Linked DNA regions of Homo sapiens. Each later gene encodes a partner of the first gene's protein in a complex. Each region holds a gene or a part of one and is shown on either strand. Other genes may lie near its edges.

What was found. Proteins that work in one complex are often made in the same cells at the same time.
Region 2: the proteins of PRKCE (region 1) and YWHAZ are in contact, whole or in part, in a crystal structure (PDB 2WH0), measured with the Homo sapiens proteins. Residues at the interface, in NP_005391.1 of Homo sapiens: Lys365, Ala366, Leu367, Ser368, Phe369, Asp370, Asn371, Arg372; in NP_001129171.1 of Homo sapiens: Asn42, Ser45, Val46, Lys49, Arg56, Lys120, Arg127, Tyr128, Gly169, Leu172, Asn173, Val176, Glu180, Leu216, Leu220, Asp223, Asn224, Leu227, Trp228.

Annotation. Positions count from the first base shown.
Region 1 is NC_000002.12:46,179,675-46,183,174, forward strand, and holds part of PRKCE (protein kinase C epsilon type), read left to right. Parts: intron 1-3,500.
Region 2 is NC_000008.11:100,945,521-100,949,020, reverse strand, and holds part of YWHAZ (14-3-3 protein zeta/delta), read left to right. Parts: intron 1-120; 5' UTR 121-131; coding exon 132-425; intron 426-3,500.

The DNA.
Region 1 (3,500 bases):
TTTGTTTCTATCTTGTGTCAGCAATTAGAAAACTCTAGTGCCCCAAGTCCTGGGAGAAGAAATTTCATTAATTGGGCCTAAGCCTACCTGTTTTGCAGACCCCATGGGCCTAGTGATGGTCTGGGATGCCTGGCTCTAGGCCCTTCATGAATCAGACTACAGCCATCCCCCCCAACTCCCTGCCTCCACTTCCCAAAATCAAAACACCCCCTGACAGCACAGCAGCCCCTGACCCTGAACCCAGATCACGTTACTGGCTCTAGATAAAGTAGCAGCAAGAGAGGTGCATTTATTAATTTTTTCTAGCAGATATCTATGGAGTATGCAGTATGTGCCAGGCATTGTGCTAGGCTGGGGATAGAATGGTGAGTTCAACCCAGTCTCTGCCTGCAAGGAGCTCATAGATTAGTTGAAAAGAAGAGGCCTCCTCAGTGTGGTGAGTACTAAGTTAGGAGAGATGGTGAGGGCACCCACAAGAAGCTTTGCTCAAGCAGCCCTGGAGGGATGAGGAGGGTTCCTGAAGAAAGGGCATGTACATGGAGGTGGGGAAATTGCATGGATGTGGGGCAGAAGGCAGGGATAGGGGAGGGCATTCCAGGTAGAGGGCTAGCTATGCAAGGCTGGAGGCAAGAGAAAGCAGGAGGAAGCCCCATGGTTGGGCAGTGCCAGGGAGATGAACCTGGGGGATGAGGCAAGGACAAGCTCCTGAAGGGCCTCAGAAGCAGGTGAGCGAAAGAACTCAGGACTTTACCCCAAAAGCCGTGATGTGCAATGAAGCATCTCAATTGCTGGAGGAAGCACTAGGATGTTCAGGCAGGCCCAGGCTCAGTCCTAGTTCAGGATTTGGAGGCACAGAAAGAAAGGTAAGACTCAGCCCCTAACTTCAGGAAACTCACTGATGGGCAGATACCATGCACTGTGTTGGGAAACAACCAAGCTGTGCATGATGCATGCCCATGGCACACGAATGCTAAGATTTGAAGGCATGATGGGAGCTATCATTTATTGAGTGCACTCTGTATGCCAGGTTCTGCAGAAGGAACCTAATATCACATCTCACTCAGTCCTCAAGGAAACCTATAGTGTGCCTGTTACCACCCCCGTGTGACAGATGGAAAGACCACGGCTTAAAGAGGTTAACTTCACAGCGTCAATAACCAGGAAAGGATGGCACCAGAATGAGCTCAGCCGGTGATCTTCCTCCTACTCTATTCAGCCTTCCCTAAGTGTGGGCCAAAGGTTGTAGAAAAGGCTTCACGGATTAGGAAGGGACTGGCGAGTTAGAATGTTGTTCCCTGTGTCCCACTGTCATCTCTCAGGCTCTGCAGTGGGGGCCAGGAGCCTGACATTTAGGCATTAGGGGAGGCAGGGATGACTGAGGATCAGGATAAACAAGTGTCTCTGAGAGCCTGCCCCTCAGAATCTTTAAGTCGAGTCCAGTGCCTGCTCTGTGCGGGAGGTAGCAGCTTTTCAAAGAATAAAATCAGCGAGTAAAGAATATAATCTGCAGTTCTTTGCAAATTTGACGATGCTGTGCTGCCTACATACCATTAATAGGGGATGGGTTTTCCCAGAGATGTTTGCTTTGGAAAACTCCCAAGCCTCTACTGTTAACAGTTAGAGATTGCACATAGTGGGGATGGTTATTTGAATTAGAAATGGGTAACTCACATGCACCTGAAATGTCTCCAAGTAAAGTAGGGTAGGGGCCAAGTTGTATAAGGAGATGGGTGAGCCAAGTCTGTAACGATCATGAAGAATGGCATACTCTCTCAAATGCCACAGATGATTCTGGAACCTCAAGAATCTCAGAGCTGAGCTAAATGGCTCTCCAAGATAGCCCACCATGGAGCTAAGGTCCTCTGGAATGACACCACTAGCAGTATTGACTGAGCCTGGTTCCCTGATTCACAACAGCAAGTCGTGAAATTCAGACATCCTGTAGGATCTAGCTTTACCACTATGCTCAGTTGACCTCAAGAAATGAAACCAGCTTCCATGATTAACAGACACTAATGACCAACAGGTGAAACACAATCAGGTAAATGGGGAGAGCCAGTGCCAGAGGGCTTACAGATTTTCTGAAGTTCTTCATACACAGGTTCCCCTCATTAGCAGCCATCTGGGAGGGAGCTGGGGATGATTCTGAAACCTGGAGAATCCCGGTCACTATATCATACATTAGTTGAAAAGAGGGAGCCTCCTCAGTGTGGTGAGTGCCAAGTTAGGAGAGATGGTGAAGGCATCTCCTGCCTACACGCCTTGTACAGCCAGCCCTCTGCCTGGATTATACCGGTCTACCACATACCTGGGCAAGGCTCGTCCTTAGTGACGTTACAAATGGAATATTCTTCTTGCCCTATTCCTTGACTCTCTTTTTCTCCTTACTGCCACCCCTACTACTCCATTATCCCCTTCGGCTCCAGCTCCCCCGGCGTGGATGCTCCTGGCTTGCCTTCTGGGATGATACCCAGGGCTTCCCTAATTGTTGCCACAGCCTACCCAGCCCGCTCCTCCCTCTGGACTGACTCACTTCGCCAGGCACAGAGGGCCCATAGCCTGCAATCCTCCCCAGTCAGTGAATCCCTCCCCCTTCCACAGAGATCTTCAGAAGAGGTGTCGCCACACCCTTTGCCCAGGCGCCACCCTCCCGCGTCAGTGTGCGTCACCGTGGGGATGGTCTTTGTTGTTTCCCTCTCAAGCAGGGCCCTCCTTTTCCTCTTGTTCTGTACACACTGGAGAGGGAGAACAGATGGTCCTCCTGCCGGGGGCCAGCCCTCCTGGCAGAGGTGACCAAACCACCCGGCTTTCCCATCTCAGGGGCATCATGGACACCCCTCAGCTATAGGTTCTGTTTCTGGGGATCCCTTGGGTTTTCTGTGTGTCCCCCCCTTCCCCCTTCCAAGGTCTCTGAGACCTGCTGACCTATGCAGCTCAAGCCCAGAGAGAAGACACCAGGCAGGACTGGTGGTGCTAAAAGATGGTAGAAATCAGTTTGTCCCTCCTCCGTGCTGTTTGTGATTTTGATTTCAACCTGGGACGAGTTGAAAACAGTCCCCCGCGCAGCTCACCCGGCCCACGTTACCCACTATCTTCCCGGACTCACAGCTGTCTCCACCCATGCTTGCCTACTGGCAGGCCTTTCCGGCTTTATTTTGCCTAGTGGTGTTACCAAAATGTCTCCTGGTTGAACTTGACTCTTGTTATATCTTCCAATTTCTCCCGTGTCCAGATTTCCAGACCTTACCCACTGTGGAAGGCATCACACTGAAGCCCAGACATGAGTTCTGGGTCTGCTCTTACCCAGTCCAGTGACCCTGGGAAAGTCAACAAACCTCTCTGAGCCAGTTTCCTCATCTGCAGGATCAGGATGTTACCAGCCTGTTCTGAGGATCAAATGAGCGAATAAATGCAAAGATTCTTTGTAAACTGTAAACCAACATTCTCCAAACTGCATTCTGCAGACCCTGCTCTCAGGAGAGGTGTTCATAAACTATTTA
Region 2 (3,500 bases), on another chromosome or scaffold:
AACAGTCTTTCACAGGCAGTTAGGTTTCAGGTTTAAAAAACTCATTTACCACAGGTATAATTTTGAGTCTGTTTATTTTGATGGGAAAAATTTTAAATACTCCTTTTTTCCCCCCTGCAGAACATCCAGTCATGGATAAAAATGAGCTGGTTCAGAAGGCCAAACTGGCCGAGCAGGCTGAGCGATATGATGACATGGCAGCCTGCATGAAGTCTGTAACTGAGCAAGGAGCTGAATTATCCAATGAGGAGAGGAATCTTCTCTCAGTTGCTTATAAAAATGTTGTAGGAGCCCGTAGGTCATCTTGGAGGGTCGTCTCAAGTATTGAACAAAAGACGGAAGGTGCTGAGAAAAAACAGCAGATGGCTCGAGAATACAGAGAGAAAATTGAGACGGAGCTAAGAGATATCTGCAATGATGTACTGGTGAGAATCAATTCAGTCTGGCTTCATTATACTGTAGGGTCCCTATGAGTATCAGTTACATTACTCTTAACTTTTTGTTTGGTTTTTCTTTTCCTTCTAAACATTGTGTGTTCCAAATTTAAAAGTCTTCATGGTGTCATGACTAAAAAGATGTTAAGACAATTATAGATACGTGTATGTAAAATAATTGCAACAATGATTATGAAACAGTTCAGTTTTGTTAAAAATAACAGACTTTAGTATTGTATTTTATATTAATTGAAAATATAAACTAATTGTGTTACTGTTTTACTTATGGTTAGAATATTTGTAGTAGCTCTATAGCTGGTTATCTTAAATGTACATCTGTGGATAAAGGAATTTTACATACTTTAGGTAAGAGAGATGTAATAGGATACTCATTGTAGAAATAGTACTCTTCTCAGGATTAGCCGCTATAATGTTAATGTAATGAGTCAACCATGCAGAAAACTCTGGCGTCACAACTATGAAACCTCTTCCTGCATTGAATTCTTGAAGGTAAATTTTGAACACTCACAACCATGATGAAAGGTTATGAACAACTCAAGCTTGATTTTCCAGTTTGAATCGAGTATTTTAAGTATTCAGTACTTACTGTGTTGAAGCACTGCGCTTAAAAGAATTAAACTACATTTTGGTTAATTTTAATCTGTCATATAAAGTAGGGCTTTTTGATCAAGAATAGTTTAAATTTGAGGATAAACCAGTAGAGAATCCAACCAAGCTGGCAGTTTTTGGAATAATATTTAAAGTGGTTTTACTAAATGGTTACACTTAACCAGTATGGAAGGGCTCTGATATACAAAGAGGGGCAGCATCTCGATTTTTCTGGACAGATTACTGAATCTGGAACTCAGTATGGAAATCCAGGTTTGTTACTTACTATATGAACCTTGTTTATGGAAGAAGTGCTATAATGAGCAATAGGATAATGTCTGATGTGGTTGTGGGTTTGGGGTTTTTGTTAAAGTTGTGATGATACTATCATTTCTTTACATTTGTATTTACTAATGGAATAGCATCAGTTCCTAAACTGTAATTTTCTCAAATGATACTTACTTGACACTGTCTTTTTAAAGAATAGTGATTTTTTAAACATGCTTATTTGGGTTCACAGCCACAAACTCAATGAGGCATCTGTCTTGGGGCATTTTTTTGTTCTTTGCTTATTGAAACCTTTAGAATGATAGCTACTATTTGTATCTAAGTTGAAAAAAGGAATATCTTGCTTTTATTGGGGCCAAGTGACAAATGTCTGTTTTGTGATTTTGCTAAGGTAATAAGAATATTTAAATTTTGTTTTTTGTTTTTTTTTTTTTTTGAGACGGAGTCTTGCTCTGTTGCCCAGGCTGGAGTGCAGTGGCGCGATCTCGGCTCACTGCAAGCTCCGCCTCCCGGGTTCACGCCATTCTCCTGCCTCAGCCTCCCGAATAGCTGAGACTACAGGCGCCTGCCACTGCGCCCGGCTAATTTTTTTGTATTTTTAGTAGAGACGGGGTTTCACCATGTTAGCCAGGATGGTCTCGATCTCCTGACCTCGTGATCCGCCCTCCTCAGCCTCCCAAAGTGCTGGGATTACAGGCTTGAGCCACCGCGCCCGGCCAAATATTTAAATTTTGAAAATGTGATTTTTTTTTTCTATAATAAAAAATGTATTGGGTTTTTTTGTTTTTTTTGTTTTTTTTTTTTGCTCACCTTACTAACTAATATCTGTGTATGTGTAATTCAGTTTTGTTCAGTCTGGAGTGTTTTTCCCAATTATTACACCTGATCGAAAAGTTTTTATTTTGGCTTCAAAGGGTGTGTTACACATTAACATTTCCCTTAAGACAAAAGTCAATTTTAGGAATAAAAAGGAATGTAACATTTACCTTTTACTAACACGCTTATTTGCAATACCAGGTAGGTATGTGCATGTTTTCCATATACAAAGTATAAAAGTTCCTGTCATTGTGAGTCTTTTCCAAGGAAAAGACTTGTAGCAGGTTTGTTTTTTGTGTATGTTTGTTTGTTTGTTTGTTTTGAGACTGAGTTTTGCTCTTGTCACCCAGGCTGGAGTGCAATGGCACCATCTCAGCTCACTGCAACTTCCGCCTCCCGTGTTCAAGCAATTCTTCTGCCTTGACCTCCCGAGTAGCTGGGATTACTGGGCGTGCACCAGCACGCCCAGCTAATTTTTGTACTTTTAGTAAAGATGGGGTTTCACCTTGTCGGCCAGGCTGGTGACCAGGTCACGTCTAACTCTTGACCTCAGGTGATCCACTCGCCTTGGCCTCCCAAAGTGCTGGGATTACAGGAGTGAGCCACCACGTCCAGCCCAACTTGTAGCAGTTTTGACTATGCTTCCCTTTAGTTTCCTTATGAAGAAACTTTGTTTGCATAGAACCAGTAGATGAGGATAACAAGATAATCTCTTCATATAAATAGTTTCTTCTTGTTATGATTATTAAGGAAGTTCACTCTGGTCCCTACCCACATCGTTACCCTCCAGAATAGCACTGGCTTCCCAAAAAGTTTTAATGGTATTTACACTTTGAAAGTTTGGATAAATGAGAGTTTAATTTCTTTACTATACAAATGGCTTTGAAGAGAATTCTAAACAAGCTTTTGCTTCCAGCCTTGGTCTTTTCAGGAGTAAGACTTAGTGATCTTTGCATACTCAACGTGTAATAGATGCTCAAATATTTGTTAAACAAGCAGAAAGGCTTCTTTAGAGAAAGAGCATAGAATTAGGTCAGCAGCACTGCAAAATTTCCCTAGCTTTTTCTTTTTCTGCTTGGGAAAATTTGATATTTACCGATAATAGGCTTCTTTTTCCTACCATCTTTTTCAAATAGGTCACATCGACTCTGGAAACATATTGCATAAAATTCCTTCTGCCCTTTCTGTGAGATGGAAGAATAAAATGTAGCAGAACTGATATTTCTACTAGAAAAAGTTATTGAATCATTATTAATGATTAGTAAAAATATTTTAAATTATATTTTTAAGATCTTACATGATAAAAAATCAATTATAATTTTTTATTACTCCAGCCTTTTCTGGGCTTTGATA